Linked DNA regions of Homo sapiens. The protein of the gene in region 6 interacts with the protein of the main gene of each other region in a pairwise test. Each region holds a gene or a part of one and is shown on either strand. Other genes may lie near its edges.

Region 1 (4,353 bases), on a different chromosome or scaffold from region 6:
GTCAAGGAAGACCCTGAGAAGGAGAAAGCTGTGGGTGGAACAGGTTTTAGGGGGGAAAATCAGGAGTTTGGTTTTACATATGTTAATTTTGAAATAAACATGTAGCAATGTGGAGTAGCCTTGGACATGTGAATCCAAGCCTATTCTACATCTTTACATGTTTTTTTCAAGTGATGAATAGAAACTTCCCATTTATTTCCCAAAACTTAAAAAAAACTTTAGTTTTAAATGATTACTTTCTGATTCCTCATTGCTTAAAGTGTGTATGAGTGTACACATACACACACTCTCACAGTGTACAACCCAGAAATGAAATGCCCAGAATTCCATCTCCTGGAAATAACTGTTGGTAATGGTTTGTTGTATTTTTCTTTAGGTTTTTTTCCCCATATACCCACACTCCAGAGCATATTTACTGTAATGTATAGTTAAGCATGTTTTTCTCTATTTATCAACTCTTTTTGTAAAATTTACTCATTATTGTTTCTCCATTTGAATGACTTTAAAATCGTTTTTTAATCTGTATGTAACTTATGTGGAGATCAAAAATAAAGAAATAGATTTTTCTTAATATGCCTGGCATTTTTAGTTGTAAGAAATATCTTTTGTTGGCATGATGACACCAGTCTGTACTTTCAACTACTAGGGAGGCTAGGCAGGAGGACCATTTGAGCACAGGAGTTCAGGTCTGCAGTATGCTGTGATTGTGCCTGCAAATAGCCAGTGCACTCTAGGTTGGGCAACACAGTGAGACCTTGTCTCTGATTTTTTTTTAAAAAAGGAAATACCTTTGGCTTAAATTATGTTACTTGATACACATGGAATTGATACACATAGAGTTGTCTGAATTTTACTTTGTGATCTGTAATGATTATTATATATACATTATGTCTTCCTTCTGTGTCTTTATTTATTTATTTTTATAAAGATAAAGATGGGATCTCCCTGTGTTGCCCAGGCTGGTCTCAAACTCTTGGGCTCAAGGGATCCTCCTGCCTCCCAAAGTGCTGGGATTACACGTGTGAGCCACTGCACCTGACCTTTATTTATTTTTAACTGAAGTAGGTAAAGGCAGTTGCTCTTGTTGCCCAGGCTAGAGTGCAGTGGCACAATCTCAGCTCACTGCAAACTCTGCCTCCCAGATTCAAGTGATTCTCTTGCTTCAGCTTCCCAAGTAGCTGGGATTACAGGCACCTGCCACCATGCCCGGCTAATTTTTTGTATTTAGTAAAGATGGGGCTTCACCATGTTGGTCAGGCTGGTCTTGAACTCCTCACCTCAGGTGATCCACCCACCTCAGCCTCGCAAAGTGCTGGTATTACAGGCATGAGCCACTGCACCCAGGCCTATTTATTTATTTATTTATTTATTTATTTATTTATTTAGAGACAGTCTCGCTCTGTTGCCACCCCGCCCCCACCCCAGACTGGAGTGCAGTGGTGCGATCTTGGCTCACTGCAACCTCCGCCTCCCAGGTTCAAGTGATTCTCCTGTCTCACCTTCCTGAGTAGCTGGGACTGCAGGTGCCTGCCACCACGCCTGGCTAGTTTTCTGTATTTTTAGTAGAGACGGGGTTTCACCATGTTGGCCAGGATGGTCTCAATCTCCTGACCTCGTAATCCACCTGCCTCAGCCTTCCAAAGTGCTGGGATTACAGGTGTGAGCCGCCCATGCCTGGCCCGGCCCCTATTTATGTATTTTGTGAGATGGAGTCTGACTCTGTCACCCAGGCTGGAATGCAGTGGCCAGATCTCGGCTCACTGCAACCTCCGCCTCCCGGGTTCAAGCAATTCTCCTGCCTCAGCCTCGCGAGTAGCTGGGATTACATGTGCCAGCCACCATGCCTGGCTAATTTTGTAACTGCCCAAGGGGTTCACCTTGCCCGCTGCCTAGACAGAGCCGATTCATCGAGACAGGGGAACTGCAATAGAGAAAGAGTAATTGACACAGAACAAGCTGTGTGAGAGACTGGAATTTTATTATTACTCAAATCAGTCTCCCCAGCATTCAGAGAGCAGAGTTTTTAAGGATAACTTGGTGGGTTGGGGGAAGCCAGTGAGCCAGGAATGCTGATTGGTCAGAGATGAAATCACAGGGAGTTGGAGCTGTTTTCTTGCACTGAGTCAGTTCCTGGGTTGGGGCCACAAGATCAGATGAACCAGTTTATTGATCAACTGGTGCCAGACCAGGTGTGAGCTTGATGGTACTTGCAGCACCAAAGTTTTTAATTTTGATGAAGTCCAATTGATCTTTTTATTTTGTTGCTTGTGCTTTTGGTGCCATATGTAAGAAGGCTTTGCCTACCCAAGTTTATAAAGATTTTTTTGTTTTCTTCTAACAGTTTAAAAGTTTTAGCTCTCACATTAGGTGTATGATCCTTTTTGCATTAATTTTTGTATATGATATAAGGTAAGGGTCCAATTTATTCTTTCATATGAGGATATCCAGTTGTTGTAGCACCATTTGTTCAAATTTCCCCATTGAATTGTTTTGGCATTCTTGTCAAAATCAATTTGCCATATATGTAAGGTTTTATTTCTGGATTCTCAGTTTTGTTCCTTTGATCTATTTGTCCATGTGCCAACACTATACTGTCTTTATTACTGTACTTTGTAGTAGATTTTGGAATTGCCAAGTGCGAGTTCTCCAACTTTGTTCTTTTTCAAGATTTTCTGTCTGTTGTGGGTCACTTGCATTTCTGTATGCAATTTAAGTATCAGTTTATCAACTTCTGCAAAAAAAGGTAGCTAGGATTTTGCAAGGCATTGTGTAGAGTTTGTAGGTCCATTTGAGGAATATTGTCATCTTAACAATATTGCGAAAGACATAGATTGTCTTTCCATTTAAATAAATTAAGTTGCATTTAATTTCTTTCAGTAATGTTTTGTAAGTTTCAGAGTACAAGTATTATGCTTCTTTCTCTCAATTTATCCCTAGTTTGTTCTTTTTATGCTATTATAAATGAAATTGTTTTACTAATTTCATTTTCTGATTGTCAACTCACTAAAATTTGGCCTCTGCCATACTGACCCTGCCTCAGCCTAGACTAGTAGAGTACAGGGGTCACAAAGTCAAATGCCTGCAGGAGCCAGGTGTATAACCTGGAGGAGTGAAGCAGGCTGAGTGGGACAGTGGTCACTGGGTCAGCCCGTGCCTGGTTTAGAGGGGACAGCCACTCTCGAGTTCTAGTTGATGGTTGCTGTGAGGTTGTGATGGTTTAGCATTGCCACATCTTATGATTTTCCAAGAAAAACTAGAAATCTGGATTTTTGTGTGAGAAATCCTAATTTGCAAATGTTAGCAACAAATCAGACACATACACACACATGCACACACAGTATAGGCCAAGCGAATCATATGTATTTTTAAGGATGATGTTTGAAGATGATGCCAGTGAACAAAATGAGAGTGAAATGTTTGATGTACCACTCACCTCCTTAACCGTAAGCGATGAAGAGTCCCTGATGTGTCCACTAACATTTCTCTTGCCGTAGTAACCATTTTCCCTCTTAATTTTTCTTTCTGATTTCTCAGTCTAAGAACCCTGTTTATTACAGCAAGTTTGCTAAACATCATTGCAGCATAGTTTGGGCTTGCTTTTTTGTTTTATTAACACTCATATAATGTTTTTCTATTATTTGTGATTTTAGGCAGTTTAACAAAGTAGTTTGTATGAGGTATGCATTGGGTGACTGACTTCTGGATCTGATGTCCACAGTTCACAGTGGGGAGTGAAGTAATTTGGAGGGTCATATTACTTCTTGAATCATTACCATTTGTAAATGTTTGGCAGTCAGGTTCATTTCAACAAGCTGACCTCAAATTCCATGTCAAAAATATTCATCTTTTTTTTCTTTTTAATATATAAAGGCCCTACTTTTTTGGCTATTAGTCTGCTGGACATTCAGAGCAGAATAATCCAAAATAACCAAGAGCTTGTATAACTCATGTTTGCCTGCCTTAAAATTTCTTCAAGAAAGTAAGTATTTGAGTGATTTCAATGAGGTTTTTAGTCTGTTTGAATGAAACAACTTTATTTAAATGTTATTTAAATAATTTTTTCTTCTTTATTCAGCCTAACTTCCTGTTATCTAGTTTGCGTATTAATGCCTGAAGGTTTTTTTGAAACCATAACTTATTTTTTAGTGAACAGCTTTTTTATGATGATAGAGATAATTTTGTACTTAGTGAAAAGTTGCAAATATAATACAGAGACTTCCCATGTACTCTTCACCCTTCATCCTCTTGTGTCGTCATCTTATATAACCGTACATTCTATGGCATGGAACAATGATTAAAACTAAGGAATTGGCCAGGCGCGGTGGCTCACGCCTGTTAATCCCAGCACTTTGG
Region 2 (4,353 bases), on a different chromosome or scaffold from region 6:
TAAAGTAAAGAGATTAGAGTAGGTGGTCTCATAGTGCCCTTTTAGCCATAATGTTCTCTGAAGGATCCACAATCCATGCCCACTGTTGCAATTAAAAAAAAAATTTCTGAAGTTTAGCTTTAGCTTCCAGGGCATATACATTTTGACCTTAACCCCCTGCTCTAAAAATGAAATCAGAATTCTTTCCTGCTTAACTACTGCACTATCACTGTTACCTGCAGGGCAGTGAGAACATAACTTCTACCAACTTTGTCATTCTGTGACATGGCCAGCTTAATGAAAGAAGCAGGGCTGTAAGCTTTAGATTTAGGATAGGATCTCAGAGTTTCATGTAAGATGCTGTGAGTACAGAACCCCTTTTGGTAACAAAATTTGGAAGGACACAGTGGCATTTCCTGATTGCCAACCTGAGGGATTGATTGATCTGCCTGCTTCCTTCTCATGTTGTGACATACAGCTGCTGATGAGGCCATGCCATGAAACAGCACAGTCTCAAAGTAGTCCCATCCTTTCACAGCATGCTAGAATAGGAGAGTAGAACTTTGTCTTGAATCCATCCACAGTATTCATAATTGTGCTTGGCATATAATGAAAATTCAATAAACATTTGCTAGATGAATGGAATCCCAAAGCAAGCACAGTCTTTTTGAAATTTTCTAGAGGTTTTCAGCTAGTAATAACAAAATGGAAACAGAGGTAAAGAAGATGAAAAAAAATGGCTTTTTTCCCTTTCTGTTTTTCTGCTCTAGCTCCATAAGAAAAAGACAGAGAGGAACATTTGGGGTTATCTATTAGTGGGTTTATGGGTTGAGAAAACACAGGAATAAAAGTAAATACTTGTATCAGACTTTACTAATATTTCATCACAGTAGCTTGGAGTTGGGATAGTGAGGAAACAAGATGGTAGAAACCTAGTTTTTACTAAAATAGGTTGAGCCCATTGGTGTAATTTCCCTTGTCCCTCATCATTCATTCCTATAAGTAATGGCCTCTTGAACTTACTTTTGCAGAGCAGGGAATCTTAGGTGACAGTAAGAAAAAAAGCATGCCATTTCTTGTCTGTCAGCCATTGACGAAGCTCTTCCCACTTCACTGTTTATAAAGGACTTAGTGTAACTTGAGAATACATTCTTCTTTGTAGTTATGTTTTGGGTGGTTTTTCTTTTCATAATTGGTCAGTGCTTTCCATTAGGATTCTTTATTTTCTTTTCTACTGAGACCCTTACTGGGCTAGTAAAATGAAACTGTCTTAGTGGGTATATATGGTTTTCCACCAGAGGGTCATTCAGAAACAAACTCTTAGTACTATTGCTTACTTCCTATCAGTCCTTGTAAATAGAGGGCTGAATCAGATTTGTAAAAGAAGTTAGCAGTGGTAGTCTGGATGATTTCCTTTTTTCAGGGAAGTGGACAGAAGAAGAAGAAAAGAGACTTGCAGAAGTGGTTCATGAGTTGACAAGCACTGAGCCAGGTGACATAGTCACACAGGGTGTGTCTTGGGCAGCTGTGGCTGAACGAGTCGGTACCCGCTCAGAAAAGCAATGTCGTTCTAAATGGCTCAACTACCTGAATTGGAAACAGAGTGGGGGTACTGAATGGACCAAGGAAGATGAAATCAATCTCATCCTCAGGTTTGTGTCCTGAATCTTGTAATGACAAAAGCAACTTAATTTCTGTGGATGTCTTGATAGACTTTCCTCTTTTGGTTTTCCTGGATGCCTAGTGTCTGAAAAGTATCCTTTCCATAGAGCACTACTGTTTAAGATCTTAAGTATTTCATATTGAGCTCTTTTTTTGTGTTGTGTTTGTTCCTTTTTTTTTTTAGTGGGTTTAGTGCTCATGCAAAGTACCAGATTGAAGGCGTGGAGACTGAAGTCCTCTCTATATCCACAGAACAGGTATGGCACAGGCAGCGGCAGTGTAGCTTTTCCACTGTCCCACCAATGTGCCTCAGTCCTAGCCTAGGGGGAACACGTTTAGGATAAGAGGGCTGTTCAGTCTCCATGCCCTTCAATCCTTGGCTACTGTGCTAAGATTGCCAAGAAGGGGGCCCAGTCTGTAGTTACCTCCACACCTCCAAAGTAGACCAAATCAAACACATCCATTTCATACAAATTCAAAAAAGCTTTAAGATATCATAATCCCAGCTTATTTTTTTAAGTAGCTGGTTTAACCATTAAGATTTATTAACTAAAATGGGCAAAAATACTAGCAAGAAATTATTTAAGACCCTGAAGTAATAGAGACTGTCACCATGGCTACTCCCTACCGAAAATCAAATTGTCACAACAAAGCTAGAAAACGAACAGATTTTTTTAAACCTCAAATTTTGTTGTACTGTTGTGTTGTTTTTTGATTGCAGCTATTGCTTTTGTGTTATTTTGTTTTGGATTTTTTTTTCAACTAGTCATCTTTATAAATAGCTCATTTCTAAATATTTTTGCTTAACAATGGAAACGCTCAGATCCAGGAAGTAAATGACTTAGTAAATGCCACACTATGAAACATTGCATATATACAACTAAATCTGTTCTTATTCTAACCTTTAGCATACTCCTTTTCCTTCACAGTGCCTCATCTGGCTCTAACCATTTATAGTTTAGCCCATTGGTTGTACCTTTAATTAAAAGTGGTTGCTGTTGGTATTTCTTAGCTGTTAGCTCTGAAAGCAGATCTGCACTCCTGGAATCCTTTCCCGTGTAACTTAACAATAGCATCTCATTGGCATAACCTGCCATTCCCTTTATTTGCCAGTGCAATTACCTGTAGTCAGAGGAGGGGTTCTTATAGAGAAATTAATTTAATGTCTAACGATGCTTATTTTGTAACTGTAGGATAGCAGAACTTGATGTAGCTGATGAAAATGACATTAACTGGGATCTGTTAGCTGAGGGATGGAGTAGTGTCCGTTCACCACAATGGCTACGAAGTAAATGGTGGACCATCAAAAGGCAAATTGCAAACCATAAGGATGTTTCGTTCCCTGGTAATGTATTACTTACTTTTTAAGCTCCTCCCCTTTTCTTACCATATTTACTCCTTAGGAGTGAGAGGTTAGAAGTTCTTTGCCCCAGCTAGAGATATCATAGCAGATTTCTACTTACACCACTTCCCTGTTTCTCTCAGTAATTGTTTCCTTCCCCAGAGAAGAGTTAATACTGTTTGTAATTCCTAAAGCCCCTAAAATGAAAATGTACACACTTATTCTTGTTCTTCTACGTAAACTATCAGGAGGAAATAAAATCATGCCACATAACGATTTAATTTTTATGTTTTTAGAGACAGGGTCTAGCTTGGTTGTCCAGGCCGACATGCAGTGGTGTGATCATAGCTCACTGTAACCTTAAACCTGTCGGCTCAAGTGATTCTCCCACCTCAGCCTCCTGAATAGCTCGGACTACAGGCACACACCACCATGTCCAGCTATTTTTTTTCGTAGAGATGAGGTCTTGCCATGTTACCCAGGTTGGTCTCCAACTCCTGGGCTCAAGTGATCTTCCCAGCTTGGCTTCCCAATGTGCTGGGATTACCTGCATGAGCCAGCATAGCTGGCCACTCATAACCTTTCAGTCAACAACAGATGTCATACATAGTATTGGTCTCACAATATTAAAATACTGTATTTTTACTTTTTTTCTATGTTTAGATACACAAATATTTACCATTGTGTTACAGTTGCCTACAGTATTTGGTACAGTAACATGCTGTAAGGGTTTGTAGCCTAGGAGCAATAGACTGTATAGATCATCTAGCCTACGTGTGTAGTAGGCTGTACCATCTAGGTTTGTGTAAGTACACTGTGATGATCCCATGACAGAATCACCTAATGGCTCATTTCTCAGAACATATCCCCATCCTTAAGTGATTGATGACTATATTTTTATTTTGTACAAAGATGTACTTCTGAAAACCTAAGTTTAAGTCAACTTTTGTGAGTTGTATAATTTCAAATATCTTAGCTAGGTGTGTTAGAGAAATTCTGTGATAATTTTGTAGAACAAAGGCTCTGTAATTTTCTAATTTTATTAATTATATAAATCTAGAGATCTTAAGTTGGGTTTGCTTAAAGTGAAGCATACTTTTTGTTGCCTGTTTTGCATTTAGGTATTAAACTTAGTTGTACAGTCTGTTTAATTTAGGTTACTAAATTTATTCCCCTTATTATAGCACTCTTAACTTCCATTATTCCAAAGGAAAATTTAATGCTGAGGAACTTTGCCTTGATGAAAATGTGGTTTTTTAAAATACCCAGGTATAGGCCAGGTGTGGTGGCTTATGCCTATAATCCCAGTACTGTGGGAGGCCAAGGCAGGAGGATCACTTGACGCTAGGAGTTTGAGACCAGCCTGGGCA
Region 3 (4,353 bases), on a different chromosome or scaffold from region 6:
GCCGTGTAATGAAGCTTATCTGCCACTCTTCATTTGAATGCACTAAATTGTGGTACAATTTATGTCGAAGCTTTTTCAAACTCTTTCCACTTTTGTAGAGATAAATCAGGCTCTACTAAGAAAAATCTCAAAAGATGAAGAGTTGACTCGGCAACAATGAATACCCTTCTGGCCGGGTCCTAGACCACACTGTGCATGAACGTGCATGTTTGTCTTGGCACCCCTCTCCTAGGGCCCTCCAGCTTTTTCATCATCACCTCCCATCTCCAGGGCACACTGACTGGGGCTGCCTTCTAGAAAAGTGCATCGGGCTCTCATCTTGGTGCATAAGCTCATGACATACAGTAAGTCACTTCCTTATCCTGGTCCTTAAACTCCTCTGTGAAATGGGAAATAATACCAATCTATAAAACTTACACACCTTAAAGAGCTGGCCACCTCTAGAGAATCAGGCTTTGCTATTAATGGACTTTGGAAACCATGTGCTCAGAAAGGAGCAGGCACAGCAGTGAGAAACCGAGGCCATGTAGTGACACAGGGGAGGAGGAGGAGGAGGAGGAGGAGGAAGGTGTCAGCGGGCAGAGGGAGCAGTTATTAGAGAAGGAAAAAAGAAGCGAAGATCTTTTAAATAACAGTTCTTTGGGAAAATGCAGCAAGCACTCTCCTCTAAATTAATTTTCTACATTCTCAGTCTAATAATCCAGATGATGGCTAATTTTCAAGGCAATCTAAATGGTTTTATATGGGGTTTCCTATGTAAATCCTTAGAGCGTTCTTTGATAGGCACTATGGCACATTTTAATCTAAGTTCTGCATTTTAGTTGATCCATTGAAAGATCATCTTAGAACTAAAATGTTATCTTTAGAAATTCTTAACCCCTGAGGATGATAATTAATGATCAAAATGCGTGTAGAGCCTACACAGCAAGTCAGAATATCAAAATGATTAACTTAGCCATGCACATCACTGGGGTTTCTTAATTATGCAATAAATTCAATGAAAATTGTGAGGGTTTCTCTTTTCTCCAAAATGAAAACAGGTTTCTTTGTCTGATATGTGAAAAATTCCATCATGCTCACTTTGGCAGCATGTATACTAAAATTGGAACGATACAGAGACTAGCATGATCCCTGTGCAAGTATGACATGCAAATGCATTAAGCATTCCATTAAAAAAATTTCTTTCAATACAGAAAGTATATAAAATATAAAAATTGGCTGGGTGCGGTGGCTCATGCCTGTAATCCCAGAACTTTGGGAGGCCAAGGTGGGCGGATCACCTGAGGTCAGGAGTTTGAGACCAGCCTGGCCAACATGGCGAAACCCCATCTCTACTAAAAATACAAAAAATTAGCTGGGCATGGTGGCAGACACCTGTAATCCCAGCTACGTGGGAGGCTGATGCAGGGAGAATGGCTTGAACCCAGGAGGCAGAGGTTGCAGTGAGCTAGATTGTGCCACTGCACTCCAGCCTGGGCAACACAGTGAGACTCCATCTCAAAAAAAAAATGTGTATATATATATATATATATGTGTATATACATATATATATATATGAAGTCCAGGATCCCAAACCCTCCCATTGGAAACTATCACCATTAACATTTTGATGTATGGCATTCTAAACATTTTTCTAAGCTTATCTGTATATAGGAACTTTTTCAAAATTAAGATTATTATTCATAGAATTTGTAACTCTGAAACATACTATTAGTACTTATCTATGTCAATAAATATTCTTTTTTTTTTTTTGAGACGGAGTCTTGCTGTGTCACCCAGGTTGGAGTGCAGTGGCACAATCTCAGCTCACAGCAACCTCCACCTCCCAATTCTCCTGCCTCAGACTCCTGAGTAGCTGGGATTACAGGTGCACGCCACCACGCCCAGGTAATTTGTTGTATTTTTAGTAGAGATAGGGTTTCACCATGCTGGCTAGGCTGGTCTCGAACTCCTGACCTCGTGATCAGCCTGCCTTGGCCTCCCAAAGTGCTGAGATTACAGGTGTGAGCCACTGTGCCTGGCCTGCAATAAATATTCTTTTTTAAATATTGTTTTTCTAACATAATTTTATTGGATACATAATATTCCATTTTAAGGGATTGATTCACTTAACCAATCTCTTGTTGTTAGACATTTGAGATTGTTTCTAATATTTCACTACAATAAATAGTTATAAACAAATATAACCACAGCAAATTAGAAGGCTTTACACTTCTTTGCATGCACAAATAAATTGGAAAATCTGGATGAAGTAAATGATTTTCTAGAAATACATAATTTACCAAAATTGATCTTAAGAGGGAAAGAAAAAGAATGGACATGATTAGATATACCAGCAAGTATAGGAAGAATTTAAAAGTAGTCCAAATAGTCCAAGGGCTACCTCTCCAATAGTGCCACATCCAGATGGTTTTATAGGTGAAATCTCCCAAATCTTTAAAAATTCTATTTGTAGTATTCCAGAAATAGAGAAAGAAGGAAATTTTTACATTCTTTTTTTTAAAATTCAGAATAACATTAATACCGAACTGAACAAAGATGGCACAGGAAAAGAAAATAGAGCAATTTCACTTATGAATATCAATGCAAGATTTATAAGTAAAATTTAGCAAATATAATCCAAATGAAAGGAATAAAACACCAAAAACCCAGATTAATTCATTCCAGCAATTAGTACTGATCATTATCAGGAAATCTAACAATATAACCCACACATTATTATTATTATTTTTTCTTTATGAGATAGGATCTTGCTCTGTCACCCAGGCTGGAGGGCAGGGTGTGATCATGGCTCACTGCAGCCTCAACCTCACAGGCTCAAGTGGTCCTCCCACCTCAGCCTCCCAAGTAGCTGGGACTATAGGCATGCACCACCACTCCCAGGCTGGTCTTGAACTCCTGGGCTCAAGCTATCTGCCTGCCTGGGCCTCCCAGAGTGCTGGAATTACAGACATGAGCCACTGCATCTGGCCACATCGTTATTTAAAAGAAGAAAAAAAATATATAATCACCTGCCTAAAAGACATGATAAAAATAACTTATTTCCAATTAAAAAAAAAAGAAATTCCTAAACAGTGGGAATAGATTGATGTTTCCTTTAGATTATGGACATATAGCCAAAAACTAGAAAAATGGTAATTAAAAAAATTTTTTTTCACTTTTCAGATGGAAACAGGCACATAAAATGATAATATTTGTAGACAGAGAAACAGAAAACCAGGTCAAGTGTGGTGGCTCATGCCTGGAATCCCAGCACTGTGGGAGGCAGAGACAGGCAGATCACTTGAACCCAGGAGTTCAAGACCAGCCTGGGCAACATGGCGAAACCCCATCTCTATAAAAAATACAAAAATTGGGGCCGGGCGCGGTGGCTCACGCCTGTAATCCCAGCACTTTGGGAGGCCGAGGCGGGTGGATCATGAGGTCAGGAGATCGAGACCATCCTGGCTAACAAGGTGAAACCCCGTCTCTACCAAAAATACAAAAAATTAGCCGGGCGCGGTGGCGGGCGCCTGTAGTCCCAGCTACTGGGGAGGCTGAGGCAGGAGAATGGCGTGAACCCGGGAAGCGGAGCTTGCCGTGAGCCGAGATTGCGCCACTGCAGTCCGCAGTCCGGCCTGGGCGACAGAGCGAGACTCCGTCTCCAAAAAAAAAAAAAATACAAAAATTGTCCAGGCATGGTAGTTCGTGCCTGTAGTCCAGTTACTCAGGAGGCTGAGGTGGGAGGATGGCTTGAGCCCAGGAGCACCAGTGCACTCGAGTCTGGGTGGCAGAGCAAGACTCTGTCTCAAAAAAAAAAAGAAAAAAGAAAAGAAAAGAAAGGAAAAAGGAAAAGGAAAAAGAAACAGAAAGCCAAAATTTTTAAAAAACTAACCAAAAGCCAGTGTCACCATAAAAGCAGAAGCAGCAAAACAAAGTGGCTGAAAATAATTCTGAAACTAGAATTCCTGGGTTCAAGTTCAGCTCTGTCTCTAGTTGTGTGACCTTAAACAAATTACAGTCATGCATCATTTAACAATCTGCATACATTTTGAGAAATGCATCATTAGGCAATTCCTTCATTGTGTGAAGTCACAGAGTGTACTTACACAAACCTAGATAGTAGAGCCTGCTACTCACTTAGGCTGTATGGTATACCTATTGCTCCTAGGCTACAAATTCACACAGCATGTTACTATACTGATTACTGTAGGCAACTATAACACAATAAGAAGTACTTATATATCTAAATATAGAAATGATACAGTAAAAATACAGAATAAAAGATAAAAAAATGATACACCTGTAATAGGGCACTTACCATGAATGGAGCTTGCAGGACTGGAAGTTGGTCTGGGTGAGTCAGTGAGTGAA
Region 4 (4,353 bases), on a different chromosome or scaffold from region 6:
TCCTGCACAATATAAGGTGGTGGTCTTGGAGTCAGATAGACCTGAGTTTGAATTTTACCACCATTAACTTTGGCCAGTGACTTTTACCCCTTTCTGAACCTCAGTTTTCTCGCGTTCAAAATGGGAATACATTAGCACTCCTGCCTCGCAGGATAAGGTTTGATGAAGTAACATACATAAAGTTACATAGCTCCCTGCTTTGGCACAAAGTAACTTCCAATAAACGTTGCTGTCAAAGCGGTCACCATTCAGTTGGGGGGCAACATATTTATGAGACAGCATGGTCTAATGAAAAGACCGGAAGTGTGAAGACTGGACTTACTGGAGTGATTCTTAACTCCAGTGTCTCTGTCACTCCACCTGTAAAATGATTATTTTTCCTAAATGTGAAATGGCCCAAAAAATACTTCACTTACAGTGCTATTGTGCAATAAATTAGACAAATGGATGTGGAAGTGCAGTATAGAACAAAAAGCACTGGCTCTGAGATCTACATGACGGGATGATGTATATATGGGGTGCACTGGCAAAAGCCCCAGATTAAAAGCCACTAGAGGCCGGGCACGGTGGCTCACGCCTGTAATCCCAGCACTTTGGGAGGCTGAGGTGGGTGGATCACGAGGTCAAGAGATCGAGACCATCCTGGCTAATATGGTGAAACCCCATCTCTACTAAAAATACAAAAAATTAGCTGGGCATGGTGACACGTGCCTGTAGTCCCAGTTACTTGGAAGGCTGAGACAGGAGAATCACTTGAACCTGGGAGGCGGAGGTTGCAGTGAGCTGAGATTGTGCCACTGCACTCCAGCCTGGGTGACAGAGTAAGACTCTGTCTCAAAAAAGAAAAGAAAAAAAAAAAAAAGCTACTAGAGTAGACCTGGCTGTAGTTCCGATTTTCCTCTAATTTGCTGTGTGGCCTGGGGAAGATCCCTTCCCCTCTGAGTTTCCTTATTTTACAAATGGACTCAGTTCTCTCTGAGATTCCTTCATTTGGGACATTGTGATTCTGCCTTTGGCTGACACAAAATGATTAGGGTCATCTGCAAGGGTTCCACGGGGGAGTTCCCAGGGGAAGTCAGCACTGAGGGTGGTCAGGACCACCTGGAAAGCTTCCCCCCATAAGAGACCGCCCCAGAATTCTGGCTAGGAGCCACTAGAGGCCTATGGAGCAGATCTTGATGGTCAACATATCTTCTCTGGGTCCATGAAAATCTGTGTCATTTTCAGATTCTCAGACAAGAGAATCCCACACCTCATCCCACTGTCAGGGCCAGATCGCGGGCTGGAAGGGAGCTCTGGCTGGGCTCTTGGGAACTTTAAAAATAAGGGGACCGGAGGGCTATTCAGACAGACAGGAAGTAGGAATTAGAAGGGAAAAAATGCTGAAGCGGAGCCAGAAGATGCGGATTCCCTGCTGGCTTTGCTCCTTAGCAGCTGGGTAGGCTGGGCAACCTGCTTTAGCTCCCTGAAGCTCAGCAACCTCATCTGTAATATGGGCTTTTGTAAGGCTCAAAGGAGGGAAAGACATATAATGTTGCCAAGAAAACTGTAATGTGAGGTTTGCCTCTGAGATATGGGAAGAGGAGAAGGGGGGAAATAATACGACAGGGACAAGCTGACCAGGAGATTGGAAAAAGGAATGGCAGCACTGCTTTGCCCTGAAATGGGTGCGTCAGCCTCCAACAGATGGTCCCAGCGGAGGGATCAGGCTGAGAGGCAGTGACGTGTGCAAGGCTAACCTAATACCCGGAAAGACGCTTTATCAAGCTGGGGGGAACAAAGGCCGTGTTTCTTAGTGTGTCTTGGCTCTTGGGGTTTGTCCCCAGTGAACCAGTGAGGCTTTGTAAACAAGCTGCCCCATAGATCTCAAGATCTGGCCTTACAAGCCCTGGACCTAGCTTGCTGGGTCCTCCCTCCCAGGAGCTATTATAGACCTCTTACCAGGTCGGCTTGTCCAGATGTTTGGGTGGGAGATATCCTTTTCCAGATGTGTCTGGACAAAGCCAGAGACATAGCAGTAGGATTTGACAAATGCTATCTGGTCTCTTCTGCAACCTTCTCTGAGCAGTTGATGAAAATGATCCAAATTCAAATGCCAAAAGGGTTGGGACCCTTGGGCTGGGACCCTTGTGTTAAGTCATATACGCCCCCATTCCACAAAGTCCTAGGCCATAGATTTTATGGTGCTTACATCTCTGTTCCCCAGTGATGCCAAAGACATGGGTGAGAGAAGAAAGCTCTACCATGAGTTCTGCTGTATTCCAAGCCCTTGCTGAGTACTGAAGCTGCAATAGTGAATGTAACAGACATGGTTCATGGCCTCATGGAGCTTATGGATTTGTTGGAGAGATAGACATCAATCAAATAACCATATAAATATAAAACAATGAACTGGCATAAATGCTGTGAAAGCAGGGTGCTAGGAGAGTATTGAGCAGGGGACACTAGTGGGAGGAGGAATGTTAGAAAAGGCTCCCCAGGGAGGTGCCATCTGAGTTGAGATCTGATGGGTTGTAGAAGTTATGGGGCAAAGGGACTGGGGCTTGGGGTGATGGGTGAACCAAAGATGGTGGACCTAGGCTAGGGGACAGTGCATGCAACTGAATGAAGGAGTTGGTGCATTCATAGGCTGGGGCATACAGAAGAAGACGGTTGAGTCTAGAGGGGTTGACAGGGGCCAGTTGGACCACCTGAAAGATGGTGGCCTTGATCTTAAAAAACATTGGGGCCAGCCATGGTGGCTCATGCCTGTAATCCCAGCACTTTGGGAGGCCAAGGCGGGCAGATCACCTGAGGTCAGGAGTTCAAGACCATCCTGGCCAACATGGTGAAACCCCGTCTCTACTAAAAATACAAAAATTAGCTGGACGTGGTGGTGGGTGCCTGTAATCCCAGCTATTTCGGAGGCTGAGGCAGGAGAATTACTTGAACCGGGTGGCGGAGGTTGTAGTGAGCCAAGATCATGCCAGTGCACTCCAGCCTGGGCAACAGAGTGAGACTACATCTAAAAAAAACCCAAAACAAACAAACAAAAGTTGGGGAGCCACTGAGGAGTTTTAAGTGAGTGATATGATCAGATTTCAATGATCACTCTGCCTGCAGTGTGGAGATAGGCTTGTAGAGAGTAAAAGAGGGTGTAAAAGGACCCAACAAGAAGCTCTTGCAGTCACCCAGATGAAAGATGATAAAGGCGTAGCATTGAGAGAAGTGGCGGAGAGGAAGAGGACAGACGTGAGATATATTTTAGACATAGCGTGGGCAGGTTTTGATGAGGTGGGGGTGAGGAGGAGGAGGAATCAAAGACAGCATCAGCTTTCCACCTTGCAGAACTGGGGTACCTTCACTGAGATGGGGAAACCCAGGGGCAGCAGGAGCAGGTGTGGGTGAAGGCCAGCTTGCAGATTCCTGTTCAGATGTGTGGCGTTGTGTCTTCTGAAACGGCAGGGGAGTCACCTTGTTTGTTGTTTGTTGGTGCAGTGTCTGCCCACTGGAGCTGAGTTGAGGAAGGGAAGGGCTGGGGTCTGGCTGAGTGCACCAGCACCCACCCAGGCCTGAATAGGGCCTTAGAAGTGTTGGCCAAATGAATGATGCCTCAGTGGACCCAGCGAATCCTCACCATTCTAAGAGAGCTTCTGAAGCAGAAAACCTGAAGAAGGGTTAGCAGTTGGGCTGGAGATTATTTTGGTCAGAGTCTGGGCAGGAAAAGCCCCCCCAGGGCTGAGCCTCTTCTCTGTAATGGGAGCTCCTGGGGTGTGAGCAAACATCCATCATTCAACCGGGGCGCAGAGGGAAGGCCCGGAGTGGGAGGAGAGGCCGAGGTTGGAGGGACGGGGCCTTCTGGGAGGCCAGGGCAGTGTCCCAGAGCATCCGAGAGGGGCCTGTGACCCAGATGCCGCCTCCCCTTCGCCCCCGGCCGCACCGCGTGGGAGGAGGCGGCAGCTGCAGGCGGGGCGGAGGGCGGGCGGCCGGCGCGCCCGGCCCGTGGGAAGCAGCGGCATCTGCTCTTTCCACGCTCGTTCCCAGCGGCTCCCTCTGAAACCCAACCCGCCCGGCCCAGCCCCGCCGCCGCCGGCCAGTGCCCTCGCCCGCCCCGCCCCCGGGGATCGGGTTGCAGGAGCCGGAGCCACCGCGCCGCGGTACGCGGTTCCCCGACGGCCGCCGCGAGGGGCGAGGAGCGAGGAGCGAGGGGCGAAGGGCGAGGCCGAGCAGGTCCGGACCAAGAGCCCAAAGTGGGCCCAGAGTGCATGAGAGGACTTGACCCGGGTTGAAATGAGCCCCCAGGAAGAAGGGGAGAGCAAGCTGCTCCTTCTAGGCCCAGCCTGTGGCTCCTCCTGGCCCGAGGTCGGCCCAGGC
Region 5 (4,353 bases), on a different chromosome or scaffold from region 6:
ACTCCCTCGAGGAATTTACAATCTTGAGCTTCAAGTCAGTGGAAAGAAATGTACAATCTAATTGAACACAAAAAAATTTATAGTTCAAAACATTCAAAGTGTCAGATTGGTTGCATAAATTAAAAGAGATTAGAGAAGAGGAAAATCAGTGGACTTGGAGTGATCAGCAAAGGCTTCAATAAGTAGGTAGAACTTAATCTGGGACTTAAATGTGAAAATTGACCAGCTTGGAAGGAAAAAGGGAGGTGGTACCACATAAGGATGTGAAGTCAAGCAGAACAGCAGAAATGGATAATGCTAACGGTATATGAAGACCAGCAGTGGCTGCTGCAGGAAGTAGAGTCAAATCTTATCCTACGTGCCTTTATGGATATCATCAGAATTGCTAAGTATTAATTAAATAAATGCATGGGTTTTTTATTCCAGCTGTTTGCCAGTCTCCCTGCTTAAATGGTGGAAAATGTGTAAGACCAAACCGATGTCACTGTCTTTCTTCTTGGACGGGACATAACTGTTCCAGGTAAGATAACCAAAAACTAATGTTCGCCTATAACATGAAGACTCTAAAATTCAAGTAAATTGTCCTAAGAGCCAGAAGTTATCTCTGTCTAGTTTGACTGTAAGTATTTTGTATGTGAAAACATCCATTTTGAGACAGGCTCTCTAAATTTGAATTAAAGCCAAAGCTAAGAAATATTAGTTCAGGATTGACAAAACAAGAATATCTCAAAAATAAGCAGTCTTGTGCTCACTTCAGCAGCACATATACTAAAACTGGAACTTCACAGAGAGGATTAGTATGACCCATGCTAGAGGATGACACACAAATTTGTGAAGCATTCCACAGTTTTTGCAATTAAAAAAAATCGGTTATATAAATAAATAAATAAACTTCTTGAACAGAAGATTGCATCCTACAGATGCAAGGATGTAAAATAAATAAACTCAATGTAATTTTATTGAAAATGACCCAATAGATGTTTAAGTTCTTCATTACAATAAAAATAGTATTGAATTGATAAGAAACGTTTATTTTAAAGTAATATATTTTGTATTTTAGTGTTTCTATGCGTAGCATTTCATTGACTACAAAAAGATTATGTAAAAATATGTTTTTTCATCGGTTTCTTATTTCTGACCAGATAAATATCACAGTTTAAAAATACTATCACAAGTCAAAGGGAAAATACTTAAAAGATCATTTATAACTTTTTAAACATCAGGAAAATATCAGCCATATTGTGACATACCACAGATAAAATATTTTCAATATTCAAACATTGTCCTCACCAATGTTGCAATGTTGAAATATTATCAGCTATATTTTAAGACTTTCAATATATATCACTGCACTTAGATTTGTATTATGTACACTTACCCCTACCATATAGGACTCATTAAAAACAAATGGGTATTTCCATATTCATTTTTTAAAGTGGGAAAAATTCAGTTAACTGAAAACTTTTATTTTTCATTTCCTGATTTGTTATTTTGATTGGAATGTCAAAGTCAACTTGCAAATATAAAAAAGCAATTAAAGTAAAACCTAACAACAACAAAAAAATCTGTCTAATGCCAGTGAATTTCCTCACATCATCTCAAGTATATGCCATCTCTGCAAAAGGAGAAAAAATAAACTGAACCCTAAACAGCAAATTTGAAATGGACAAATATATTTAGAAGCTGCCAAGATTATACCTTTACCTGAGAGCAGAGCTGAATTTAAGAAAATGAGAGCCAAAAGAGAGGAAATAAAAGAGAAAAAACAGTGACTCAAAAAAGAAGTATTTAGTACTTTTTTATAATATTAGATTTTATATTTCAACCTCTTCATTTTTCAGATAAAGAAAAGCCCAGAGAGAGTTTGCATGATTTAAAAACTGTCGATAGGAGTTCTTTCTTGATTGAGGAAAGGATAATTATTAGCATGTATTAAAATACTGTACATTAATCAGGAAAACAAGATCTAGATTTTTTACGCAAAAGTTTGATATAGGCATCCAAGAAAAATAATGGCAAATTAAGCTGAGAGGTGTAGCTCACCTTCAAGGGAAGGCTAACTAGCAACCCAGAGGACCAGACAGGTTCCTCCTCCTGTATATACTGTAATTCTTGCTAAAACTCTAACTAGTTTAAGCAAAGAAGAGAATTTATTATCACAATAGAGGGACCTTGTATGGAACCCAAGGACAGAGGAGTGGTTGAGCATCAGGAGGACCAGACTGGGGACTTGAAAGCCACGTGTACCTCTCCACCTCCCATGTCACCACCTCTTCCAGGGTCTCCTCCATCCTGTCTAGCTACAGAGTGGTTTTCTTCTGTTTAGTTCATGTGGAAGGGAAGGACAGAATTTCTCTTTTTTTTTTAAGACAGAGTCTCACTCAGATGCCCAGGCTGGCATGCAGTGTGCAATCTCGGCTTACTGCAACCTCCACCTCATGGGTTCAAGCGATTCTGTCTCAGCCTCCTGAGTAGCTGGGACTACAGGCATATGCCACCACACCCACCTAATTTTTGTATTTTTAGTAGAGATGAGGGTTCACTATGTTGGCCAGGCTAGTCTCGAACTCCTGACCTCAAGTGATCTGCCCGCCTTGGCCTCCCAAAATGCTGGGATTACAGGCATGAGCCACCGTGCCTGGCCAGGACAAAATTTCTTACAGAATTTTTTACATGTCACCATACAGTATCCGGAGACATAGTACACTGTCCCAGTTTAAAAATCCAGGACTCTGATTGGTCCAGATTGATTCAATGGCCAAGCATGAATCAATGTCCTAGGTTGGATTATGTTGTACCAACATAAAGGGTAATTTTGGCAAAAAACTGGGTAAAAGGGAGGAGAGTCTGGCAATTCCCAGAAGAAAAGAAAGTGGGAGGGGGAAGAGTGCTTGTCTGAGAAATAAACAATAAATGTTACCGTATAAGTTTTTCCTTCTCTCCTACGAGACTGAATGCCTTAAAGTTTGTATGCTGGGCTGAGTGTGATGGCTCACACCTGTAATCCCAGCAATTTGGGAAGCCAAGGCAGCAAGCGGATCACTTGGGCCCAGGAGTTCAACACCAGCCTGGGCAACATAGGAAGATCCCATCTCTACAAAAAATACCCAGAAAAATTAGCCAGGCATGGTGGCACACACCTGTAGTCTCAGCTACTGAGGAGGCTGAGGTGGGAGGATTGCTTGAACCCAGGAGGCAGAGGTTGCAGCGAGCCAAGATTGTGCCACTGCACTCTAGCCTCGGCAACAGAGTAAGATCTTGTTTTAAAATATATATATATGCCTAGTGCCTTGTACAGGCACAAAAGTCGCTGCTCAATAAAGGTTTGTTAACAGATGGAGCAATTTCCTGGCATGAATGTCAGTTGGTAGAGAAATGCCTTGTGGCATCCATTAAATCCCTCAATGTTTACCTTCTCTACTGATAAATAAGACTGACCTGGCCTTTTCTCCAGATAATTCAGTTGTTCAGAAGGAAATTGTGTTTCCTCTGACCTCTGTGCACATCTTCAGAAAACTGATCCTAAGCAAATATCATAATGAAAAACCATAGATTGTTAATGGACTAAGAGACCTTTAGGTTCATTAGCTCCAAACCCCTCATTTTACAGAAGAGAGAATTGTAAGATAGATAGAAAACTAGTGGCAGAATCAAGAGTAAAACTCAGGTCTGATGCTTCTCAGATCTTTCCATAAGTTAGCACTTGTTTCCCATGCCTCTTAGTTATCTCAAAGAATGACCCCCATCCGTATAAACATCACAGATAATGCCCAGGTATCTGGGACTTTCAATCCTGTTTTCATCAACTCCTAAAGAGATGTTAGCTCTTCAGTTCAATTTTTTCTTTTGAATCTATTTGGTTGCTTTTTTTTTTTTTTCCAGGAAAAGGAGGACTGGGTTTTAACCACTGCACGACCATCTGGCTCTCCCAAAAGCAGGATCATCTCTCCTCGGTAGTGCCTGGGCATCCTGGAACTTATGCAAAGAAAGTCCAACATGGTGCTGGGTCTTGTTTAGTAAACTTGTTACTTGGGGTTACTTTTTTTATTTTGTGATATATTTTGTTATTCCTTGTGACATACTTTCTTACATGTTTCCATTTTTAAATATGCCTGTATTTTCTATATAAAAATTATATTAAATAGATGCTGCTCTACCCTCACAAAATGTACATATTCTGCTGTCTATTGGGAAAGTTCCTGGTACACATTTTTATTCAGTTACTTAAAATGATTTTTCCATTAAAGTATATTTTGCTACTAAATAATATTTTGCTGGATAGTACCATTTTATGAGGTGGCCAAGGGATTCATAGAGAGGACTCATGATCTTTCATCTGTGCCACTGGCACCA
Region 6 (4,353 bases):
AGCTCCAGAAATCAAGAATATTATTTTCATAAATCTCCCTGTACTGCAGGGCTCCCTGCACATAGTTGCTTCTTAATAAATATTCATGACTGACTAATTGATTCACCAATTGATTAAAGCTAGAGATATGTGTGAGGCACAGATGCTAAGCATTTTATATATCTAATCATATTTAACCCTCACAACACTACCATGTAGGTGGTAACACCACATTTTAAAGATAAAGAACACTGAGAGGAGACACTAATTGCCCAGGTCCCAATACAAAACTACTGTTCTTTCCACTTCACTGTATAACTAACTGATTTTAGGAAAATTTTTTGTTTTTTCTTTTGTTCTTCTTTTCTTTCTTCATTTTTTTATTTATTTTTATCTTTCAATGTTTAAATCATTTAAAGTAAGTTTGGTGGGGGAAGAGGATTATACAAACCTAAAATACAAAATAATTATATCATTCCATCTTTTCCTCAAACCCTTATTAATTTACATACGTAGGTTCTTCACAGTCATATTTTAGAAACTTTTTATTAACAAGCAACTGGTTCTTAATGGATGACATTGAAAACTGTTTTTCCTAAAAGCAACTATTTATTATTTTTCATATGTAAAGTGCCTGTCAAATCTTCCCATGACAATTCATCATGTGGGTATTTGCCATCTGAGTAAATTACATGTTTGATTAAAAAAAAAAAGTTCTGACATCTGTGGATAATGAGTTAAATAAAAGAAAATAATTAGAATATCTTATTCCCTTTTTTTTTTCACCTCCACCTAAAACGAAGGAATTCTATTCTTTCAATAAGCAAGTATTTATTGAATATTAAGGGAGGCATGGTGGAAAGCAAGGCATGGTGGAAAGCAATCTTACACTTTTAATAGTGGTCTTATCATACCTTATTAGAAAGGATTTGTCTTAAAAAATTGTCAGATATATCAATAAGATATGATTCCTAACCCCAGGAAACTTATAAAGTACTACACAAAAAACAAATAACTATAAATATAAAAGTGGAAAGGAATAAATGCCTTTAAAAAATATATGAAGTAAAGCAAAGAAAAATTAGAGAATTTCCAGTTGAGAGCAACAACATGCTTTAATAGGCATACTATGTGGGTGCCATGGCAACTATGACTTTTATTCACAAAAACCAAGGATTTGTATCACAGAGCTATTAAGAGTTCTCCTAACACACTACCTTCCTTTCTGGCTCTAAGATTTTGAACATACTATTTATTCTCTTTACTAGTATTATCTGTCTAATTCATTCCTTAAAATACAACTCCCATAAAATCTCCTTGATCTCCTTCCAACACTCTCACCACTTTCTGTACCCTACAAAAATATATATTGTTTTACTTGTCATATTCTGTAGAAAGCTACTTTTAACTACTTACTTATTAATCAGGTAAGTTTTGCCTATATGCAGAGAATTTACAACCACAATCTTTTTACCTGTGTATATTACAAGGCCCTTGGAAGTCACATTTTCGGCCAGGCACAGTGGCTCACACCTGTAATCCCAACATTTTGGGAGGCCAAGAGGGGAGGATTGCTTGAGCCCAGGAGTTCAAGACCAGCCTGGGCAACAAGGCAAGACCCCCATCTCCACAAAAAAAAAAAAAAAAAAAAATTACAAAATTAGCTGGGTTTGGTGGCATGTGCCTGTAGTCCAAGCTACCTAGGAGGCTGAGTCAGGAGGATCCCTTGAGCCCAGGAGGTCAAGGTTACAGTGAGCCATGATCACACCACTGCACTCCAGCTGGAGTGACAGAGTGAGACCCTAGTCTCAATTAAAAAAAAAAAAAGTCATATTTTCCATCATGGAAAATGTATATTTTATACATACAGTTATAAACAGAGAAAAAAAAATCTGGATAAAATAATGCAAACATAAACTATTCAAACAATTGTCACTCGATTCATCTACAGTCCTTTTGAATTAAGCAAGTTAACCTGTAAAGTTCAAAAATACTACACTGAGTTTTAAAAATTTGAAATTCTAATTCTTGCAAAACTAATCATAATGTTTTCAACGGCAAGCAGAGAGGGGAAGAATTCTATCAAATATAAATATTTATAATAACTGGGACCCCAACCACAAATCATGAACACAAAACCCCCAAAATACCATTTCAATGGAAAATATACAGTTATACTATAACTGAACCTAAATCTTAAAAGAGAAATAGTTTTCAGTACCAAATTATGAAGTACTTTGAGACCACTTCTCCCAATTCCTTATATAGCAGAAAATGCTATTCATTAATATCCATTTCTCTTTTATAAAATTCTCTAGTTTTAGCTAAGCATATGATTATCCAGCTAGATATATTTCCCAGACTTCCTTTCCCAGCTAAATATGTCCCAATGACTAAATGATCACACATAAACCATGAGTCAAAGTGCTATGTGCCACTTCCATATCATGCTCTCAAAAGAAAGAATATGCACTCCCATTGTTCTTTCTTCCTTGCCTCTAGCTAGTAAAACTAGAGAGTAATCATGTTTCACCTAGTGATGGAAGCCATATGTTAAGGCAAAACCACTTACAAACTCTAAACAGTCTTACTTTGTATGGTTACATGAGAAAAAAACATGTGTCATCTTTAAACAACAGGAATGGAGTCTCCTATACTGTGGCAGCTTAGTTTTTACTCTAATGGAATTCACTTCTGACATTTACCACCTAAAAGGAAATAAAAGAGTTCAAAAGCAGTCTCTCTTTTCCCTTACATGCTTTTTCCTATGACATTCTATCTAATAAGAGTAACAGGGCAGATATACATCTAAGGCTCCAAAGCCTTAGCTGGGAATAAGCTGCAGCAGTCAAGTCATCCTTTATTGTTCCATCAAACTCTTTCTCCTGGTCCTCAAAACAGCAGATTCCCTTTCCATCTTTTTAGCTTTATCCTTCTACAAAATGGTAGGCATTATCACTGAGAATTACTGAACCAAAGAAAGTTCCTTTTACAGCTTTGACAGTTCTGAGGACAACTATTCTAACATACAAATCAAATTTCTTATTAGAATGTTAAATTATTAGAATGCCAAGAGTGATGGACACATAATTTCTAGGTATCAAACCAGATAATACTTCCCCAAAGTAGCATAGGGCTATACAAACAACAAAGAAAGGGAGAACGGATCATATATAGTAAGACATTATGGCATTACTACCTCACATCACCATCATACAAAGGGGTCCTCTCTCCCAAATACAGCTAGTTACTACCAGTTATTGGATATAAAAGAACACAAAATGTTTCTTATAATATTCTGAGCAATGGAAAACTGCAGACATGAATAAGTGCATATTTCTGATGGCAAAGTTAATAAGTCATCTTCATTTCCCAGATTCTCATATTCATATAGGTCCAACTATAAAGACTCTCAGGAAGGTATAACTGTTCCCTTAGGCCTATGGTATTTTTTTTTTTTTTTTGAAAAGTGGCTGAGGTACCTGAGTCATCCTCTTAAAGATTCTAAACTCCAAATGATCGAAATTTAAAATTGAAACATTCACACCATATAAACAAGCACTAGTAGCCCTGATCTACTTATTCTTAACTGAAAGTGCTCCCCAGCACTCACTCTCTGTCTCCAATACAAAATGGTTTCCACCATGCAAGCTGAATCATCTATAAAAAGTTTAATTTTCTTTGTTTTCAACAAATTAAAATGCCTGGAGGAGCCCCTGATTTACTCTGTGGATGGCAGGACAATCTGAGAAAGAACATGGCAAAGTAATGTTTAAATACTCTTGGCCTCTCTAATAAAATATAAGGTCAAACAAGCAAGAAGTTTAAAAGAGAGTTCCACTAAAGGATAGGCAATTTCTAAGTACTCTAGGAAAGTGACAAGGACTATGGTCTCTGAAGCTAATTAATGACATTAAGGTAATCTGTTTAAATAATGTTAAAACATCACCTAATTTTTCAATCAATAATATGCCCCACAACTGTTAGAAACTCAAAAGGCAGGAACTTTATTCTCAAGCTTCTTTATACATGTGACTCCCTTGAAAAACAAGGTATGCAGCCAATGCATAAATTTTCCATAGGCCTCAAAACCTAAAAGAAAAAATTATAATAGAAATCCTTCTAAACTAAATCACACGCTCATTTCCCTTCTGAAATAGGTTAAATATAACAATATTCTCTGATTCAGAATCATTAATAAAATCATCAATTAATAATGAACATTCTATAACTACTGATTCAGCTCTGGGAATACTGATTCCCAAACTAAATAGCCTCATAACTAAGTTTATAAATTATTGCTTCTAACAGTAGAAATATAACCCTCCTTTACTATCATGATGCTGGACATCATTTCTTTTCCCTACCAAAATG
Region 7 (4,353 bases), on a different chromosome or scaffold from region 6:
GGCACTGCAAGTGAGATAAAGAATCTCCTGCTGATGGTACTGAAGTTTCACACTCACAAACCCACCCATAGGTAGAATAAATGCTAAACATCAACATCGTACCCACCTCCAACAGGCAATCTTGGGCTACCAGTCACAAACTGGAGAAATAACCTCTGCTGCTCATTATCAAAACTACTGAGAATCTCAAACAAAAACTTCACAGCCCGACTATAACAGAAATAAATATACCAAAATTATTTCATCAGGTTAAAATAGAGTTTTAATCACACTGCATCGCATCACATGACATAAAAATTAGATTAGCACTTTTAAATTACACATACATTTTCCATTACAATGTACTTAAATTCGTTTCTGTTATGACTAGACTAGAATTCAAATGGAATGATTACAGTTGTAATAAGTAAGACTTGATCTGGTACTGTACAGATATTTCTGCTTTACTATATGTAATAATGGGGAACAAGATTAAATCTGTCTTCCCCAACCCCTAGTATTTTCACAGAAATACTTGAGAAAGAAACCCTTGGGTCTTAATTTCCCATCTTCAGAGAAATAAGGCCAAAACAGAAGTAAGCATCCATTAACAGGTAGACACATTTTAAAATGAACCACTCCAACTTTTGTTGTTTACACATGTGCGCATGTGTGTGTACACACACACCCCTCTCCACATTCTTCAGAATCAACAGAAAAACTGGCAGACCCCAGTACTTACCTGTCATGAGTATAACCATGATCAGGCCTACAGCATTCCATCAGTGTCTTTGCATCCCAAGTGTCTGCTTTACTGCCACAAAGGAGCTGATCCAGCTGTGAGTTTAAATAAGGGTAAAAAGAATTACTAAGGAAACATTTGTTTACGTGAGTGAAAATAAAGGTCTACGTGTACCATAAAAGAGTATCAGTCTCAGTACTAAAACCTTCTGCTTGGGACCTCTTTCCAAAAAAAAAAAAATAATAATAAAATAAAATAAAATTTAGAGATTCCATTTCCTTTTTAGCTGTACGCTATTAAGTACCCTGCCCATCTGCAGGGACTTGGTTCCTGAGAAACCCTTCCTCTCAAACCAAAAACACCTGATGACCCTTGATTTCAGTTTTCCTTTCTTCTCATTACTTTAGGTGCTTTAAATGGATAATCTGCTTCTAGTCAGGGAGATTTTATAAATCCTGGCTTTCAGAAACACAAAGGTATACAGTAACAGATGCCAAGGGAGAGAACATTGAGCTGGAGAAAGAAGTGGGAGAAGCAAGCTGAACTAGGACACAGCAAATGGGTAGGTCTTTACACTTTGTAGAGAGGCATGTCTACGCTACATGGTTGGTTGTATGGGGACCAACCCAGATATTATAGAATGAATATTAGAAAGCAATAAATGCTTTCATGTCCTTATACTTTGAGAAAATCCAATTTGAGGCCAATGAAATTTAATATCTATTATATAATGCTCACTGTCTGGTCCTATATATTTAAAGACAAAGCTTTGCTCTGTTGCCCAGGCTGGAGTGTAGTGGCCTAATCACAGCTCACTCCCGTCATGATCTCCTGGGCTCAAGTGATCCTCCAACCTCAGCCTTCCAAGTAGCTGAGACTACAGGTGCATACCACCACGCCCAGCTAATTATTTTTTTTATTTTAGACAAGGTCTCACTATGTTGCCCAGCCTAATCTTAAATTTCCGAGCTCAAGTGATCTTCCCACCTCCATCTCCCAAAGTGCTGGGATTATAGGCTAAGTCACTGTGCCCAGCCTATTTAATTTCCATTACTCTGTGATAGGGGTTATTCCAATTTTACAGATGAAACAGTCCTATCAGATACAGTAACTTGGATAAGGTTATACAGCAAGTGGTGAGGACCATGATTCTATTCCAGGTGACAAGCAGTGCCTACAAGTATCAGGCACACTACATGCTTAAGTAGACACAAATATAACTGAGATTAAGACGTTAAGTTAATCAAAAATTTATAGATTTAATCAGTAGTGAACATACACTCTAAAACTAGTATTCAAACAATAAATAAAAAGGTTTCAAAACTGAGGGAAACTGGACACATTCTAGAGGCTTTCTGTATCTCACTACCAGTGAGTAGTTCTTTTGAGATTTGGCACTTGAAATTAAAGACGGTAATATGGTTTGGCTGTGCCCCTACCCCAAATCTCATCTTGAACTGTAACTCCCACAATTCCCACCTGCTGTGGGAATGACCTGGTGGGAGGTAACTGAATCATGGGGGCAGGTCTTTCCCAGGCTATTCTCATAATAGTGAATATGTCTCACGAGATCTGATGGTTTCAAAAAGGGGAGTTTCCCCGCACAAGCTCTCGTCTTGTCTGCTGCCATGTGAGATGTGCCTTTCACCTTCCACCATGATTGTGAGGCCTCCCCAGCCACGTGGAACTCTAAGTCTAATAAACCTCTTTCTTTTGTAAATTGCCCAGTCTCGGTTATGTCTTTATCAGCAGCATGAAAACAGACTAATACAGGCGGCTAGAGAAAACCAAGCACATAAATCCATTTCTTCCATTCTCAGAAGTATTCTCTGTATTTGGCAATTAGATAATTTATAATACTTTCTTAAAACTTCAAGGACTAACTTTGATTGTGAAACAATGTCTCATCGAAACGAAGTTTAGTTAAGGAATAAAGTCAAGCCCCCTCCATGTCTCTCTTTGCTTCCACAGCAGTACAGAAACATGTAGAACATGCCACACACAGCACAAGTCCCCATTCTCCACTGAATGGCATTGAGGGTCTTGGCTGACAAAGATGCTATGCTTACTGTCACGCGTGGAACCCGCTCCCCAATCTAAGAGGGGACACCTATTTAACATTCTTCCTTGCTCAGGCAATTTCCTTGTCTTTCCCAAACATCCATCCCCTGCTATCTAACACCCATTTTTTTGTTTTTGTGCAACAATACGGTCTTTGACTAGGCAGCACAGAAACACTCCACTAAAATTATAGGTATGACCATTTCTTTTAGATATAAGCTACTCACTTCCTCCGGGTAGAAGTACTGAAGATGACTGAGTGGGAAGACTGATTCAAATCCATCTCTGAACGAATCAAATTGCCTAGAAACGCCTTCATTTAGTGCCCAGAATATAACCAGCTGCAAAAAGAAAGTTTTCAAAAAACTGTGACAAGATTTCAAATCTCTTTACTATTTAATATGTGGCAAAGTACAGTGAAACACCCTTCTGGATCACTTTATAAAGAACAAACAAGTTATTAAGACTTTAAAATAATCTGCTAGAAAACTACATGAGTAAAACATCAGGTCAACATCTAATGTGGGGCCCCTACCAATAACAAAATGTAAAAAAAAAATGCCATGTGCATTTACATTTAGTGTGTTTTAAAAATCTATTTATGTGAAACCCATGCCATACAGTTATATTACCTCACTGGATGGGAATCAAATGAGAATTTCCCAAGAGGATAAAATGTTATTGAGAATTAAAGGTAATGTTTGAAGAATCACAATTAGCCACTATTAAGGGTTTTTAATTTTTAACGTAAAATGTTTAGTTCTAAATCCTGTGAAGTTCTTAGAACCCAACCTGTCTGCAGTGTGTGCTTCCTACTAAAAGTAGGCAAAGCCTGGAAATGAAGTCACATGCAATTGAAGGGTAAGAAAAAGCAACTCTTATTGGTCCAACATTATCTAGTCATCACTGACTTTGGGTAGCCCAATGGGTAGAGAAACAACATTTTCAGATAAAAATGAAAACATTAGGATTTTCTTGATAGAAAATTATAAGCATTAGTATAAATTATTTTGAGATAACCTTAATCTAAATGTTAACTCATTATTTGCTAGTAAGATGGAAGAATAGCTTTCACAAAGTCAGTAGAAGAAACAGGATAAGAAGACAGTCCTACTGAATACTAAAAGGAATTACTTATGAATCACAGAACTGTTAAGTAACAGGGGACTCTGGTTATTATTATTATTTTTGAGACAGAGTCTCGCTCTGTCGCCTAGGCTGGAGTGCAGTGGCATGATCCTGACTCACTGCAACCTCCGCCTCCTGGGTTCAAGCAATTCTCTTGCCTCAGCCTCCCGAGTAGCTGGGACTACAGGCGTGCACCACCACGCCTGGCTAATTTTTGTATTTTTAGTAGAGACGGGGTTTCACGATGTTTGTCAGGCTGGTCTTGAACTCCTGACCTCGTGATCCGCCCGCCTTGGCCTCCAAAAGTGTTGGGATTACAAGTGTGAGCCACCACGCCTAGCCAGTTATTATTTAACCTATATTCTCTCTCTCTCTCTCTTTTAAAGCTGATGAAGAAAATGGTGATGAAGTTCTTCAGAGGCTCCATCTAAAGTCACAAAGCA

The links.
Region 1: the proteins of ATF7IP (region 6) and EPG5 interact in a two-hybrid assay, tested with the Homo sapiens proteins (one large-scale study listed by IntAct).
Region 2: the proteins of ATF7IP (region 6) and DMTF1 interact in a two-hybrid assay, tested with the Homo sapiens proteins (one large-scale study listed by IntAct).
Region 3: the proteins of ATF7IP (region 6) and SUSD1 interact in a two-hybrid assay, tested with the Homo sapiens proteins (one large-scale study listed by IntAct).
Region 4: the proteins of ATF7IP (region 6) and HEYL interact in a two-hybrid assay, tested with the Homo sapiens proteins (one large-scale study listed by IntAct).
Region 5: the proteins of ATF7IP (region 6) and SVEP1 interact in a two-hybrid assay, tested with the Homo sapiens proteins (one large-scale study listed by IntAct).
Region 7: the proteins of ATF7IP (region 6) and TRIP12 interact in a two-hybrid assay, tested with the Homo sapiens proteins (one large-scale study listed by IntAct).

Annotation. Positions count from the first base shown.
Region 1 is NC_000018.10:45,956,691-45,961,043, reverse strand, and holds part of EPG5 (ectopic P granules protein 5 homolog), read left to right. Parts: intron 1-4,353. UniProt on the Homo sapiens protein: Involved in autophagy. May play a role in a late step of autophagy, such as clearance of autophagosomal cargo.
Region 2 is NC_000007.14:87,182,995-87,187,347, forward strand, and holds part of DMTF1 (cyclin-D-binding Myb-like transcription factor 1), read left to right. Parts: intron 1-1,402; coding exon 1,403-1,631; intron 1,632-2,834; coding exon 2,835-2,986; intron 2,987-4,353. UniProt on the Homo sapiens protein: Transcriptional activator which activates the CDKN2A/ARF locus in response to Ras-Raf signaling, thereby promoting p53/TP53-dependent growth arrest. Binds to the consensus sequence 5'-CCCG[GT]ATGT-3'.
Region 3 is NC_000009.12:112,136,725-112,141,077, forward strand, and holds part of SUSD1 (sushi domain-containing protein 1 isoform 2 precursor), read right to left. Parts: intron 1-4,353.
Region 4 is NC_000001.11:39,632,768-39,637,120, reverse strand, and holds part of HEYL (hairy/enhancer-of-split related with YRPW motif-like protein), read left to right. Parts: intron 1-4,105; exon of another isoform or gene 4,106-4,209; intron 4,210-4,353. UniProt on the Homo sapiens protein: Downstream effector of Notch signaling which may be required for cardiovascular development. Transcriptional repressor which binds preferentially to the canonical E box sequence 5'-CACGTG-3'.
Region 5 is NC_000009.12:110,366,090-110,370,442, reverse strand, and holds part of SVEP1 (sushi, von Willebrand factor type A, EGF and pentraxin domain-containing protein 1 precursor), read left to right. Parts: intron 1-426; coding exon 427-520; intron 521-3,882; coding exon 3,883-3,904; 3' UTR 3,905-4,353.
Region 6 is NC_000012.12:14,371,551-14,375,903, reverse strand, and holds part of ATF7IP (activating transcription factor 7-interacting protein 1), read right to left. Parts: intron 1-4,353. UniProt on the Homo sapiens protein: Recruiter that couples transcriptional factors to general transcription apparatus and thereby modulates transcription regulation and chromatin formation. Can both act as an activator or a repressor depending on the context.
Region 7 is NC_000002.12:229,768,510-229,772,862, forward strand, and holds part of TRIP12 (E3 ubiquitin-protein ligase TRIP12), read right to left. Parts: intron 3,124-4,353; coding exon 3,010-3,123; intron 817-3,009; coding exon 722-816; intron 211-721; coding exon 107-210; intron 1-106. UniProt on the Homo sapiens protein: E3 ubiquitin-protein ligase involved in ubiquitin fusion degradation (UFD) pathway and regulation of DNA repair.